2 linked regions of the Homo sapiens genome follow. The protein of the gene in region 1 interacts with the protein of each later gene in a biochemical or structural test. Each region holds a gene or a part of one and is shown on either strand. Other genes may lie near its edges. The genes, in order: VSIG4 and TRIM72.

Region 1 (8,181 bases):
TCAGTATGCAAGCCTAATACATACATATATATATGTTATTTTTCAAAAATCTTTCTCTCCATCTGCCACCTCATCTCTCCTATGTTCACTACCAACCTTCTCACGAAGGTAGCTTCCACCAGCTGAACCTCTCAATTCATTCACCACAACATAACTTTGTAATTTGGGGTCATCATTAACCTCCATATCACCAAATCCCAAGACCTCTCCATTCATACTTTTCCTCCTCAACATCTGTGTAGCAGTGGATCCTGTTGGCCATTTCTTCCACCTCAATATTCTTTTAATCACTGCTATTGATGACACCAACTTATCTTGGTTCTTCTAAGACCTTCCTGAATGATCCTTCTGAGACACCTTTGTTGGCTCTTTTTTCATTCACTCCTTAATTGTAAATGTTCTCAAAGACTCAATTCTTATTCATCTCTGCATGTATTTCTATATTATCAGGAGATTTTATTTACTTCTGTGGCTTCAAATATCACCTGTAGTCTGATGACTCTCCAACCATAATATTATCTGTATTTATTTTTTCCTGACTGCTAGATCCCAGTGTCTAGTTACCTTCTGGACAGCTTCATTTCTAATTTCAGCGTGTTCAAAACTGATCGTACCTTTTACTCACCAAACCTGTTCCTCAAACCTGTTAGAAAACATAGCAGTACCTTTGACTCCTCCTTCTCTTTTACCTCGCATCGTCAAATAATCATCAATATTACCAAGTGCTGTGAATTCACCTACTGAATCAGATACCTTATTAGGCTCTTTCTTTCTCTTCCTATACCCTCATGGTCTCATATTCTTTTTTAAAAAACAATTTCAATCATCTTCTAAATGTTCTCCCCATGTTCATACATTCTTACGAAGTCATCAACTTATTCAATATTTATTGAGTATATATTTTATGTCACTAGATTATAAAATTCAAGAGTGCAGAATTCTACCTGTCTACTTCATTGCTGTTTTTCAGAGCCCAGCAAAGTATCTGGCACAAAGAAGACACTAGACACTAGATGAATACTGTATTTGTTAATGAATGGGGAAAATATGCTATTGCCTTACCTTTGAAAATCCTACCACACTGTTGTCAGAATTATTTCCAAAAAAAATAGACTGAACAATTTTTGCTTCCTTTCTCAAAAGGAAGTAAACCTTTCTCAAAAGGTGTAACCTTCTGTTACACCCCATGGATCTTTCCAACTAAAGAACAAAGCCCAAACCCTTTTAGTCTGTTTTCAGCCTACCTATCCAGACTTATCTACTAATATGTTTCGCCACATCTAAAACGGAGCATGCTGTTTCCTCTGCTAGCAAGAGGGAGAAGCTTATGGTTTTCTCATGTCTTTTCTGAGCAGGTACATGGCCCTGTGCTTGTGTGTGGCCTCCTAGTTTCCCAGAACTGTGTCAGAACTCTTCAAAATCCCTATGGAAATCTTATTCCTCAACCATTTTTAAGGCTATTTTGGTTAGTTTTTTTTGTTTTCTCGCCTATTATCCATTGCCTCAGGCAGCTGTGTGACAAATGCTACCCCATCCCTGGGGAGAGGCTCTTAGCACTGGGTGACCAATAAAACAAGTCTTTTGAGTCAGGTCTTTCAGGGAACCACCAGACAGGCCAAATAATGGCAATTATTCAAAAATGAAGTTTGTTGGGCTCACTCCAGCACCTGGAATGGGGTTGTATGTTCAAGATTACCTCTGAGGTAGAAGGGGTAAGGGGACTAGGAGAAGTTAAAACAGCACAAAGCTTGCTGTTCTTACCAAAACTGGGATATTTTTCTTCCATAAATCCTGTCTAAGGTGCTGCAAACCTTTGGCTATTTTGCAAAATTCTAAAAAAAAAAAAAAAAAAAAAAAAAAGTTGATTACGTCAAATTTTGCATTATTTCACTGATGTTGTTAAAGGGTAAATTTCTGGAGGTTATTATGTCACCATTTTCACTGATGTCACCCATTGCCACTTTCTTTATGATACTTCCCAAGTTTCTCTCAAGAGAATTAATTACTAGGTCTCAGTTAGAAGTTAGTAAAAATAAAATATATTTTCCCATCCAAGTTGACTGACTCTCTGAACTCTAGCTACAGGTTCCTTCGAGATCTATTAATCCTGGGTTAAAAACTCTGTCCTTGATTGATGTATGAAAGATGAACAAGCAACACAGGACTTACCAGCATCATGACAGAAGTGTTGAGGCAGGTCCAAGTATGGACCTGAATGGCCTTTACTTACTTCCTATTTCCCTAGGGCATTAAACTATTCACCAAAGGGTACCAGGTCCCTTCAATCGGTTCCCTTTTCCTTGCAGACTCCTCAAAGCTACTCAAGACCAAGACTGAGGCACCTACAACCATGACATACCCCTTGAAAGGTGAGTTTTGCTAGAGTCTGAGGAAGTAGTAGAGGTTCAAAATGGTGTCATCGTAGCCAAGAAAGGAATCACAATGCCATGGAATGGCTAATAAACAGTCACTTGGTTCCTCAGAGAGAACATAGCAGTAAAGGAATGGAAACAAAAGAAAGGTAACAATGATGAATATATACTCTTTTTTTGTGAAAACTTCTGAGGCAAAAGGAAAGAGAGGGTTAGAATTACTCCCATTGGAAATACAAAAAACAAGAACACTAAATTCTATTCTGCTCCTAGTTTGACTTGCTGTGTGACTTTGGGTACATTACCTCCCCTCGATGGGAATTCTTCTCACTGCCCACACCTAACAGTAAGAAATGAAGATGCCTTATCTCATGGTACTAGTGGTTGATAACATGGTCAGGTACCCTGGAAAGTACAGCACAAATGGCCAGGGAAGGACTCCAACCTTTGCAACCATCTCCTATCTCTCAACTTTTTGAAAGAAGAGAGACATCTCTGACCCTATTCTCTATATTCATAGCAACATCTACAGTGAAGCAGTCCTGGGACTGGACCACTGACATGGATGGCTACCTTGGAGAGACCAGTGCTGGGCCAGGTAGGAATATTGTCAGGATTTCTATCTTTTCTTCTTGACTCTAAGCTTTGTGACCAAAACTTTCCCTTATGCACACTGTTCTACAGCATTGAAATCTGCAAATCATTACCTGCTATGTGCCAAGCAATGGTCAAGGGCACTGAGGATGGGTAAAGTGGGTAGGATGTAGAGAGAGAGATACAGATCCAGAGATGAGCAAAGTCAGAGTGAGGTTAAGGGGAGTGATAAATGTGCCCTTTATTTAGTTCTCTGTTGTCATAGTAATATGCTTTCCAAACATTCTGAGCAAGAATATGGATAGGGACATTATGACATCATGACCTCAACCAGGTAAGGATAATGGCTGAGTGTCATTGCTTGAGCTCTTAACCAGGGCTCTTCAAGCCGCTTGAAGCTGATTTCTGATTCCTCCAAAGCCTTGAAAATTCCCAAGTCAGGGTCTCAGAGATTCAAATCCCAAATAAATCTTTTGTGTTTCACCTGCATCTGATAGTCAGTTGGTATGCCTTCACATGACTACATTGACTGTTGAAATAATAGAACACTCTCACACCAATTGATAATTAGCTGCTCCCCTTAACCCCTGAGCCCTCCATTATTACCTGGGGCTGCCTTGTCCCATTCCTCAGAACTCTCTAGACCACCCCCATGGTCATGCAACAAAAGGTATACCAAGGAATCTCTAAGACTCCAAGTCTACAGTAGGCATCTGTTGTGACTGGTTGGAATTAAATAGTTTGATAACTATCACTCCTGGTACTCATTCTCTGCCTGTGTATAATTGAGAGAGTGGACTTCCAAATGCTCTTTGTAACTCTCCATTCCTGATTGCAGAGTTTTTTGGCTATCCCTTGGCAGCACTCAAACCTGTTTTATGTTCCACATTTGCATTGCCATCTTTGGCTTCAAGATTTCCATAGCTCCGTTCCTCTCCGAGAAGAACATCTACTGGGAGAAGAGAAGTTAGAAATTGCCTCATAGGGAGTTGGTTTGGAAAAATGAGAAAATAACCTTGGGCAAAGTTATTAGATGTTGGGTCTGCGCCCTATTTTCTCTACCAAGTTTTTTAGTACTTGACTCTCTTCAAAAGAGAATATTTCTTCGATTTGTACCAGCTTATAACTTGAGCTCTCTCAGTCCCAACAAGACACTCTGAGGACCACAAATACTGGATTCCTAGGACACGATATCTTAGAGTCTCATGAAAACAAGCCAGTTGCAGCAACAAATCCTAAGTACACTGAGGTTCCTTTCCTCACGCCTCTCTATCCCCCCTGACCTAGCATCTTAGATTCAGAATATTATAGCTAAAAGTGCTTTAGACATCATCCAATCTTTTCATTGAACTTATGGGGTAACTAAGGCCTAGTGACAGTCAAAGTTTTGTCTAAGGTCACTGTATTCATTTTTCCATGGCTGCTGTAAAAACTTACCCCAAACCTAGTATCTTAAAACAGCATAAATATATTATCTTCCACTTCTGGAAATAAGTCTGACACAATTATCACTGAGCTAAAATCAAAATGTCAGTCAGCAAGGCTATGTTCCCTTTGGAGGGTTTGGAGAAGAATTAATTTCCTTGTCTTTCTTTTCTGGCTTCTAGAAGCTACCCACGTTCTTTGGCTCATGGCCCCCTTCCTCCATTTTCAAAACTAACAATGTAGCATTCTCAAATCTCTGTTCCTTTTTACTATGTAAACTAACATACTGACAGGTTCCAGGAATTTGGATGTGAATATCTTTAGAGGACCATTATTCTGCCTACCATAGTCATACAGAAAGTAAATAACAGATCTAGGACTGGAAGCCAAGTCCAGTTGATTCTTTCAGCTTTTAGGCATAATGGGAATATGTGTCTCAAGTGGCTCAGTGGAAATATGTTTTGAGAAAGAAGGAAGCTGGGGACTTGACCAGAGCGTGTGATGGGAAGAATCTTTGTGGCTAGAAGTAACTGACCAGAATCTTAATAAGGTATGTAGCATTTTTGGTGAAGCTGGAAAGTCAGGATATTATTTTCTTTTTTCTAAGGGAAGGTGAAAACCTTCTGTCTTGGCCCTATAGAAAGCATAGACAACTAGCTCAAATGCCCAGGCCAATCAGCCCACCAGTGAGTCTGGAAGAACCTGTTTACACATGGCATCTCTTTCTCAAGTCTTTCTCATGGGACTGGAGTTTTTTCTCTCTGGCTAGCTAAGAAGGTTAGGAGAATATGGAAAATGAAAAAGAAAAAGGCCTGGCTTAGTCTAGGCTGTTTCTTAGAGTTTTTGTTTCTGGCCTTATTTTCAATCAAATACCACTTGATCTTGTTTTACCCTCTAGGAAAGAGCCTGCCTGTCTTTGCCATCATCCTCATCATCTCCTTGTGCTGTATGGTGGTTTTTACCATGGCCTATATCATGCTCTGTCGGAAGACATCCCAACAAGGTTAGTGATGAATATGAGAAGGTGGCTTTGGCTCATTTGTTCTTTCTGTCAGTATACTTGAGCCTAAATTCTGTATCAGGCATTGTGTTAGGCACTTCAAGAAGCTCCCAGCCTAGTTTGGGAGTTAAGGTTGGGGTGCAGGGAGGCAGATGTTCGAGCAAACAATGGCATAAGACTTACAGAACTAAATGCACTAGGCTTTGGTACTCAGTGAAGTACAGCCATCTTTCTAACGAGTCATCTTGTAATGATGCAAGAGAAGGAGAAGTCACAATCCCTGGCCTCAAGTTGCTCACAATTTATTTAGGAGATTCAAGGTAGAAACATGGAATTTATCAATGACAATACATAGCAATAGAGGCTATGAGCTCAAAAACTAGAGAAGACAATTAATGCTAAAGGGATCCAGAGGAGAAGAGAGTAATTTAAGGCTTGGGTAATTAGCAAGGGATTTCAGAAGGAAGAATATCTTAGACCACATTTTGGAGGATGAAAACAAGTTGTAAGGAGACAGTATTTCAGGAAGAGAGAACTACATCAGCATAGTTGTTAGGGCCTAAAAGACAACTGAGAGTGGGGTCATCAATAAAGAAAATTTCTGTAGATGGGCAACAGGGAAGTACAGTGGGAAATGAAAGCTTATTCCTGATTATAGAAGGCCTTAAATGCCAGGTTAAATAATTTGGACTTTCTTCACTAGGCCTTGCAAGGGCACTAAATTTACCAAATTTTTCAAGCATGGAAGTGGCATAATGACAGCACAGTTGTCAGAGCCATTTAAAAACTATGAACCAACCGAGGAGGAAAAAAATTGGGATGCTTGTTTCTAAAAGAAAAAAATACTAGCTGTCTCTCAATGCCCAGTGCACTAGTCATGTTGCCTAGCATCAATTTGTCTTATTCTCTGTAGTATCTCTTACTCCCAAATAGCCTGGTTACTACCATGGATCTGATGGATTTCCATCACCAGAAGGGAGCCTTGAGTATCTCCTTCTCCCAGGTTTCAATTATAAGCTCTGGCTTTTGCCAGTTAGCATGTTTATCACCATGAGGCTGAACTTGATAGCACATGACTACAAACCCCAGGGGCACTAAAATGAAAGCATTTGCATATAGCCTTGATGAGGCTGGGCATAAGCGGTAACCACATTAAATTGTTTCTCTCTCAAAAACCTTCCATGGCTTCTTATGGCCCAGGGGATAAAGGTCAAAATGTAGCATTCTATTCAAGGCTCTCTGTGATGTGGGTCTAGCCAATTTTCTCAACCCACCACTTCCTTATACCTAGTCTCATTTCCAAAAATTCCTCTTTCCTATCTCTGTATAAGGGAGACAGCCTCAGAGCATCAATTTAATTTAACATAATTACTGAGCACCTATTGTGTGACAGGTGCTGAGCATATTAAGATGAAAAAGACACGACCCTTGCGGTACAGGTGCTCATAGGCCAATGGGCGAGTAAGACACAGAAATGCAGGGCTCTACCATAAGGCAGAAGTCCTGTGGCTTCCCTTGTTTACTTTGTTGTCATTTAATGCTTGCATTTCCAGTTGCATCCCTGAAAAATTATAAGCACCTAGAGGGCAGTACAAAGAAATATCTGTCTTTGCACCAACCTAAGCCTTTGAGCCTGTACGGAATATAGGACACTCCTCCTCCACAGACACTAGGGGGCAATGGTAACCAATACCATGGTTTTTCCTGGGTATATAGTGGGGGTGAGTGCATTTGGGAATGTCTTGGGTCACGGCCATCAGCATCAGGCTAATCCAGTCCCTTCTTCCTGGTATGTGGCCTGACAGTCAAGTTTCCCACAAGGACTCTCTGGGGATCCTTGGGGGAGATTCCTGGGTAAAGAGCAAGTCCAGTTCTAGTGCCCTCCCCCAACCCATACCGAGAAACTGCTCCAGCCCAATATCCTGAGTCCAAGATGACAAAAAGGATAGTGACCAAATGTGCTTCCCCTTCTTTTACCTGATAAATTTGCATCTCTGTGTTTCAATTCACCTCCCCAATACCTCCCAGTTGTTGGAAAGCTAAGACATATTAAAATCCCCTCCTCTGTACCCTTCCCTCATCTTTTGACTGGTACCCAGGATCCATGATTGACCTTTGTCCACTTGCCATGAAAACTTCTGACATGATTCCTCCTTTTTTTCTAGAGCATGTCTACGAAGCAGCCAGGTAAGAAAGTCTCTCCTCTTCCATTTTTGACCCCGTCCCTGCCCTCAATTTTGATTACTGGCAGGAAATGTGGAGGAAGGGGGGTGTGGCACAGACCCAATCCTAAGGCCGGAGGCCTTCAGGGTCAGGACATAGCTGCCTTCCCTCTCTCAGGCACCTTCTGAGGTTGTTTTGGCCCTCTGAACACAAAGGATAATTTAGATCCATCTGCCTTCTGCTTCCAGAATCCCTGGGTGGTAGGATCCTGATAATTAATTGGCAAGAATTGAGGCAGAAGGGTGGGAAACCAGGACCACAGCCCCAAGTCCCTTCTTATGGGTGGTGGGCTCTTGGGCCATAGGGCACATGCCAGAGAGGCCAACGACTCTGGAGAAACCATGAGGGTGGCCATCTTCGCAAGTGGCTGCTCCAGTGATGAGCCAACTTCCCAGAATCTGGGCAACAACTACTCTGATGAGCCCTGCATAGGACAGGAGTACCAGATCATCGCCCAGATCAATGGCAACTACGCCCGCCTGCTGGACACAGTTCCTCTGGATTATGAGTTTCTGGCCACTGAGGGCAAAAGTGTCTGTTAAAAATGCCCCATTAGGCCAGGATCTG
Region 2 (7,126 bases), on another chromosome or scaffold:
CTGCCGCCCCCGGGGATGTCCCGGGAAGGAGACTGATCTGGCAGCTCCTATTCAACCCTGTGGCTCCTGCTGGGAGGGGACTCTGCAAACACCGCCTAGAGGGTCCCCCAGTTTCCCCTGGGAGAGTGGGGGCGCCAAATTGTTGAGGTGGGGATTGCTGTTCCCAATCTGCAGAGGAGGAAACAGGTTGCAAGTCATTGAGGCAGGAATGGAACTGATTCCATGGTCAGGCACCTCCCAGCAAAGAAGTGGCTTTGTAGCCTGGCATGGTTGCTCATGCTTGTAGTGCCAGCTACTCGGGAGGCTGAAGCAAAAGGATTGCTTGAGCCTAGGAGTTCGAGTTGTGATTCTGCCACTGCACTCCAGCCTAGGCAATCCTGTCTCCAAAAAAAAAAAAAAAAAAAAAAAAAATGGCTTTGGCAGGAGTATTGGGAGCTCTCCTATATTTGCATATTTGCATTTGAGGTCTTGGGTAAGATCTAGACCACAGAATGGTTGGTCTGTGCAGGGGACATTTTTTTTTTTTTTTTTGAAATGCAGTCTTGCTCTGTCGCCCAGGCTAGAGTGCAGTGGCACATTCTTGGCTCACTGCAACCTCCGCCTCCCTGGTTCAAGTGATTCTCCTGCCTCAGCCTCCCGAGTAGCTGGGATTACAGGCACTTGCCACAGCGCCCAGGTAATTTTTGTATTTTTAGTAGAAATGGGGTTTCACTATCTTGGTCTGGCTGGCCTTGAACTCCTGACCTCGTGATCCACCCGCCCTGGCCTCCCAAAGTGCTGGGATTACAGGTGTGAGCCACCACGCCCGGCCAGCAGGGGACATTTTAATTAAATTTCCTGCCCCCTACTCCAAGCCCATGTGTGTACAGGCAGGCTGACTTGGTGGTCAGGCTGACAGGCTGACTGAGGCTGATGTTCTGCTTTTAAGTAAGAGAGGAAGCCCAGGAGTAGGGGTAGGTTGCCTTTCTTCTTTCATATATCCTTCATGTACCCCCTGAGGTCTGTTGTGTGCCAAGCTCTGTGCCTGCCTGTCTGGTGGGAGAGACCAAACCACACTGATGTTTGTCATCCTCGCAAAGACCTGTGCTATGGGGCTGACTGCTGAGCAGAGGGGATCAGGGAAGGCAAGGCCAGGGAGGGGTCAACAAAACAGACAAGGGGCTGGGGGTGTGGCGGTTCATGCCTGTAATCCCAGCATGCTGGGAGGCTGAGGTGGGAGGATTGCTTGAGGCCAGGAGTTGGAGACCAGTCTGGGCAATATAGTGAGATTGTCTCTACAAAAATATTTTAAAAAATCATGGCCAGGAGTGGTGGCTCATGTCTAATCCCAGCACTTCGGGAGGCTGACGTGGGTGGATCACCTGAGGTCAGAAGTTTGAGACCAGCCTGGCCAACATGGTGAAACCCTGTCTCTACTAAAAATACCAAAATTAGCCAGGCGTGGTGGTGCACCAAAATTAGTCCCAGCTACTTGGGAGGCTGAGGCAGGAGAATCGCTTGAACCCAGGAGGTGGAGGTTGCAGTGAGCTGAGATTGTGCCACTGCACTGCATCCTGGGTGACAGAGCGAGACTCCAACTCAAAAAAAAAAAAATCAGAAAATTTGCTGGGCACGGTGGTGTGTGCCTATAGTTCCAGCTACTTGGGAGACTGAAGTGAGAGGGTCAATTAAGCCTGGGAAGTTGAAGCTGTAGTTAACTGTGATCATGCCACTGCTCCAGCCAGGGCAACAGTGTGAGACCCTGTCTCAAAACAAAACACCAAAATAAATAAATAAAAAACCGCACCAAAATAGACAAGGGGCAGGGGAAGCATTCGGACCTCAGGAGTAGCACTGGCTGGGGCTGGGAGGCATGTAAGTGGGTTTGGGGATGGGAAGATGGCTGGAGGAGGAGCTGGCATTGAGGTTGAGCCACAGAGGGCAGGTTTAGGATGGGAGGTGTGGGTTTTGGGTGGGTGGCATCCCCATCACTTCTCCATGCCTCGACCCCCAGACACAGCTGCCACAGCAGAAACTGCAGCTGCAGGAGGCATGCATGCGCAAGGAGAAGAGTGTGGCTGTGCTGGAGCATCAGCTGGTGGAGGTGGAGGTGAGGACTTCACAGGGCCATGTCTGAGGGCTGGGGGCCAGGCTAGGGGTCTCCAGCCAAGAGTCTTTATCCCTTCAATCACTGCCCCATCCCTGCAGGAGACAGTGCGTCAGTTCCGGGGGGCCGTGGGGGAGCAGCTGGGCAAGATGCGGGTGTTCCTGGCTGCACTGGAGGGCTCCTTGGACCGCGAGGCAGAGCGTGTACGGGGTGAGGCAGGGGTCGCCTTGCGCCGGGAGCTGGGGAGCCTGAACTCTTACCTGGAGCAGCTGCGGCAGATGGAGAAGGTCCTGGAGGAGGTGGCGGACAAGCCGCAGACTGAGTTCCTCATGGTGAGCACTGGGTGACCCCCCTCCCTGCCTCAGCCCCCTGCTCAGGGCCCAGAGACCTCATCCCATTGTCAGATAGGCCCAGAGAGGGGCAGGGATAAGCCAGCAGCACACAGCCGGGAGGGGCAGGCCTCAGGACTGCTATATGGTTGTTTAGGTTGAGCACTGCATAAGGACATTGTATTAAGTGAGCACTATTCATATCATAGACATTGTAGGTTTATATATTTATTAGGACACTCTTATTTTTATTTTTTATTTTTTGAGATGGAGTCTTACTCTGTCACCCAGGCTGGAGTGCAGTGGCAGGATCTTGGCTCACTGCAAGCTCCGCCTCCTGGGTTCATGCTATTCTCCTGCCTCAGCCTCCCGAGTAGCTGGGACTACAGGCACCCGCCACCACGCCTGGCTAATTTTTTCTATTTTTCAGTAGAGACAGGGTTTCACCGTGTTAGCCAGGATGGTCTTGATCTCCTGACCTTGTGATCCACCTGCCTTAGCCTCCCAAAGTGCTGGGATTACAGGCGTGAGCCACCGCGCCTGGTCTTTTTTTTAAAGGCAGGGTCTCACTCTGTCACCCAGGCTGGAGTGCAGTGGCATGATCATAGCTCACTGCAGCCTTGTAGGCTCAAGCAATCCTCCAATCTCAGCCTCCCATAGCTGGGACTACAGGCGCTTACCTGGCTAGTTTTTGTATTTTTAGTAGAGATGGGGGTCTCATTATGTTGCCCAGACTGGTCTCAAATGCCTGGGCTCAAACAATCTGCCTGCCTTGGCCTCCCAAAGTGCTGGGATTACAGGCATGAGTCACCGCACCCGGCCTATTAGGACAGTTTTCTAACAGGTGGAATCAGAGTTTCTTGGAGGCAAAGATACCTTTTTGTAATCCACATAAAAGTGAAGGGGTAGGGGTGGCCTTGAGTTCTAGGTCTCTTTTGCGTTTTTTTTTTTTTTTTTTTTTTTTTTTTTTGAGACAGGGCTTTGCTCTGTTGCCCAGGCTGGAGTGCAGTGGCATGACTTCGGCTCACTGAAACCTCCTTCTCCCGGGTTCAAGTGATTTTCGTGGCTCAGCCTCCCAAGTAGCTGGGATTACAGGTGCCTGCCACCATGCCCAGCTATTTTTTTTGTATTTTTAGTAGAGATGGGGTTTCACCATGTTGGCCAGGCTGGTCTCGAACTCCTGGCCTCAAGCAATCCACACACCTTGGCCTCCCAAAGTGTTGAGATTACAGGCATGAGCCACCTCGTCTGGCCTCTTTTAGCTTTTCTGATTCTTTCTGACGTTGCACTCAGCATTCCTAGTTGTCTACCCCATCCTCAAAAGTTTCCAGTGTCCCCACCATCGGCTTCACCACCATTCTCTTTTTCTCTCTCTCCAGAAATACTGCCTGGTGACCAGCAGGTGAGAGCAACCTGGCCCTGTCCCTTTGCCCGACTTGTCCCAGTCTTCTAGGGACACCAGCCGGCTCACTCTCCACTCACTATTGTGCCTGCACACCCGCAATTCAGTCTGCTGCCCCACCCCTGCCTGAACACAAGGTTGTAGACAGAAATGATCTGGAAGGATCCTTTCACTCAGGGACCTCCTAGATTGGTGCCGTGAGACACATGTGGGTGGGGACACAGGCGTCACTGTGTGCTCAGTGTGGCCGTTGAGGGAAAGAGGTGGCCAGGGATGGAGTGAATGTTTGAGTTGGGGCCTGGAGGGATGAACAGGAGCTGGCTAGGCAAAGCGTTGGGAGAAGAAGGGCATTGTGAGGAGAAAGGCATTGCGGGGAGAAGGGCATTGCTGAGAGAAGAAGGGTATTGCTGGGAGAAGAACATTGCTGGGAAAAGAAGGGCATTGCTGGGAGAAGGGCATTATGGGGAGAAGGGCATTGCGGGGAGAAGGGCACTGCTGGGAGAAGGGCATTGCTGGGAGAAGGGCATTTCTGGGAGAAGAAGGACATTGCTGGGAGAAGAAGGGCATTGCTGGGAGAAGGGCATTATGGGGAGAAGGGCATTGCAGGGAGAAGGGCATTGTGGGGAGAAGGGCATTGTGGGGAGAAGGGCACTGCGGGGAGAAGGGCATTGCTGGGGAGAAGGGCATTGGGAGAAGGGCATTGCTGGGAGAAGGGCATTGCTGGGAGAAGAAGGGCATTGCTAGGAGAAGGGCATTGCTGGGAGAAGAAGGGCATTGTGGGGAGAAGGGCATTGCGGGGAGAAAGGCATTGCTGGGAGAAGAAGCGCACTGTGGGGAGAAGGGCATTGCTGGGAGAAGGGCATTGCTGGGAGAAGGGCATTGCGGGGAGAAGGGTATTGCTGGGAGAAGAAGGGCATTGCAGAGAGAAGGGCATTGTGGGGAGAAGGGCATTGCAGGGAAAAGGGCGTTGCTGGGAGAAGGGTGTTGCTGGCAGAAGGGTGTTGCTGGGAGAAGGGCATTGCTGGGAGAAGGGTGTTGCTGGGAGAATGGCATTGCTGGGAGAGGGGACAGCCAGCGAGAGGGCTGGCGAGTGGGAGGGAAGAGGAAGCTGCGGTAGTAGGTGTGTGCACACTGGCGAAGCTGAGAGGCTTGGACCTTATCCCAACAGAAGGATTAAAAGAAAATGTAGTTGGGCCGGGTGCAGTGGCTCACGCCTGTCATCCAAGCACTTTGGGAGGCTGAGGCGGGCAGATCACCTGAGGTCAGCAGTTCGAGACTAGCCTGGCCAACATGGCAAAACCTCACCTCTACTAAAAACACAAAAATTAGCCAGGCATGGTGGTAGGCGCCTATAATCCCAGCTACTTGGTTGGCTGAGGCAGGAGAATTGCTTGAACTGGGGAGGCAGAGGCTGCAGTGAGCCAAGATCATGCCACTACACCCCAGCCTGGGTGATAGAGCCAGACTCAATCTCAAAAAAAAAAAAAAAAGACCAAAACCAAATAAACAGTGGTAAAATAATACATGTAACATAAAATTGACAATTTTCAGCTTCTTCTTCTTCTTTTTTTTTTTTTTTTAGACAGGATCTTGCTATGTTGCCCAGACTGGACTCAAATTTCTGAGCTCCAGTGAGCCTCCTGAGTCAGCCTCCCTGAGCAGCTGGGACTACACTCTACCTCGCTCATTTTAAGCATTTTTAAGTGTGCATTTAAATTCAGTGGTGCTAAGTACATTCACATTGTACAACCATCACCAGTGTTTATCTCCAGAATTTTCTCATCTTCCCAAACCAAAACTCCAAAGGAAGAGTTTTAAGCAGGGGTGCGATGTGGGGAGATCCTGGAATCCCCCCAGCCCTTGTCCTCCCCCCTCACACATGCCTCCCCTTCCCCTCCCCACCCCCAGGCTGCAGAAGATCCTGGCAGAGTCTCCCCCACCCGCCCGTCTGGACATCCAGCTGCCAATTATCTCAGATGACTTCAAATTCCAGGTGTGGAGGAAGATGTTCCGGGCTCTGATGCCAGGTACCGGGAGGGACTGGCTCAGGTTTGTGTGTGACCAGGCAGTTGATGGGAGGCCCTAGCCACCCTGGAGAGGCCTCCCAGTCCCAACTGGGGAGGCCACTGAAGGAGGTACCCATTGCCCCTTTGCCTCTGGACTGCCGCTGCAGTCCTCTAACCTGTGTTGGGAGGAGGGCCTTTGAGAGCATGGGGTTTGCAGTGGGTGACTGACATGAAAATGCTGCTGCTGTTGGTGGCACGGGACGCTGGGGCCTAGGTCTGAGCCACTGACTTGCTGTGTGATCCTTGGTCAGTCTCTGCCCCTCTCTGGACGGTGGAGATGATAAATCCTGCCAATTGGGGACTGAGGCTCTGCAGAGCTCCTGGAACCCTGGGGACTGGCCTGGGTCAGAGAGTGACTCTGGCGGCCTGTGGCTGGGGAGGCCCAAGGGCTCAGTTCCTCCCCCCAAGAGCTGGATGATGCAGGTTACAGAGCTCTGGGACATACACATTGCTGGGGCAGCCCTTCCTGCCTCAGCGCAGGTGGGAATGCAGACAGCCTCATTTTATTCAAGATAAAACTAAGGCTCAGAGACTGGGTCTAGGCTGATGTGAAGATCAGGCTCCTTGACCTTGGGCCTTGGGCCTTGTCTGGGCCTCAGATGGTGAGTCCCATGCCTTGTATCAATTTAGTCCTGTTGGCCAGGCTCGGTGGCTCACGCTTGTAATCCCAGAACTTTGGGAGGCCGAGGTGGGAGGATCACTTGAGCCCAGGAGTTGGAGACCAGCCTGGGCAACATAGTGAGAACACCTGTCTCTACAAAAACTTAAAAAAATTAGCCAGGTGTGGTGGCACGTGGCTGTAGTCCCAGCTACTTGGGAGATGGGAGATGGGAGGATTGCTTGAGCCTGGGAGTTGGAAGTTGCAGTGAGCCTAGGTTGCACCTGCGCTCCAGCCTGGGCGACAGAGTGAGACCCCGCCTCAAAAAAACAAAAAACAAAAACAAAAAACAACAACAATAACAACAACAAAAACAAAAAGAAAATGCAGGCCTGCCTGCAACCCTGGAGGGAAGCAATCATGGCCTCATCTCACAGCTGGGCAAACTGAAGTTGAGCCAGGTGTGATCTTGTGGCCCAAGCCCAGTGAGCAGAGATGCCAAGAGGATTAGGGGAGAGAAAGCTGGCCTGCAATTGGTTGGGAGAAGACCCCAGCGAGGCAGAAACCTAGGGTTTTCTGACCGTGTTCTCTCTGGCAGCGCTGGAGGAGCTGACCTTTGACCCGAGCTCTGCGCACCCGAGCCTG

The links.
Region 2: the proteins of VSIG4 (region 1) and TRIM72 form a complex in vitro, tested with the Homo sapiens proteins (one study listed by BioGRID).

What each region holds. Positions count from the first base shown.
Region 1 is NC_000023.11:66,022,238-66,030,418, reverse strand, and holds part of VSIG4 (V-set and immunoglobulin domain-containing protein 4 isoform 1 precursor), read left to right. Parts: intron 1-2,306; coding exon 2,307-2,369; intron 2,370-2,892; coding exon 2,893-2,970; intron 2,971-5,289; coding exon 5,290-5,394; intron 5,395-7,556; coding exon 7,557-7,578; coding exon of another isoform or gene 7,579-7,582; exon of another isoform or gene 7,583-7,918; coding exon 7,919-8,156; 3' UTR 8,157-8,181. UniProt on the Homo sapiens protein: Phagocytic receptor, strong negative regulator of T-cell proliferation and IL2 production. Potent inhibitor of the alternative complement pathway convertases.
Region 2 is NC_000016.10:31,217,102-31,224,227, forward strand, and holds part of TRIM72 (tripartite motif-containing protein 72), read left to right. Parts: exon of another isoform or gene 1-34; intron 35-1,993; coding exon 1,994-2,089; intron 2,090-2,187; coding exon 2,188-2,418; intron 2,419-3,794; coding exon 3,795-3,817; intron 3,818-5,725; coding exon 5,726-5,844; intron 5,845-7,079; coding exon 7,080-7,126. UniProt on the Homo sapiens protein: Muscle-specific E3 ubiquitin-protein ligase that plays a central role in cell membrane repair by nucleating the assembly of the repair machinery at injury sites.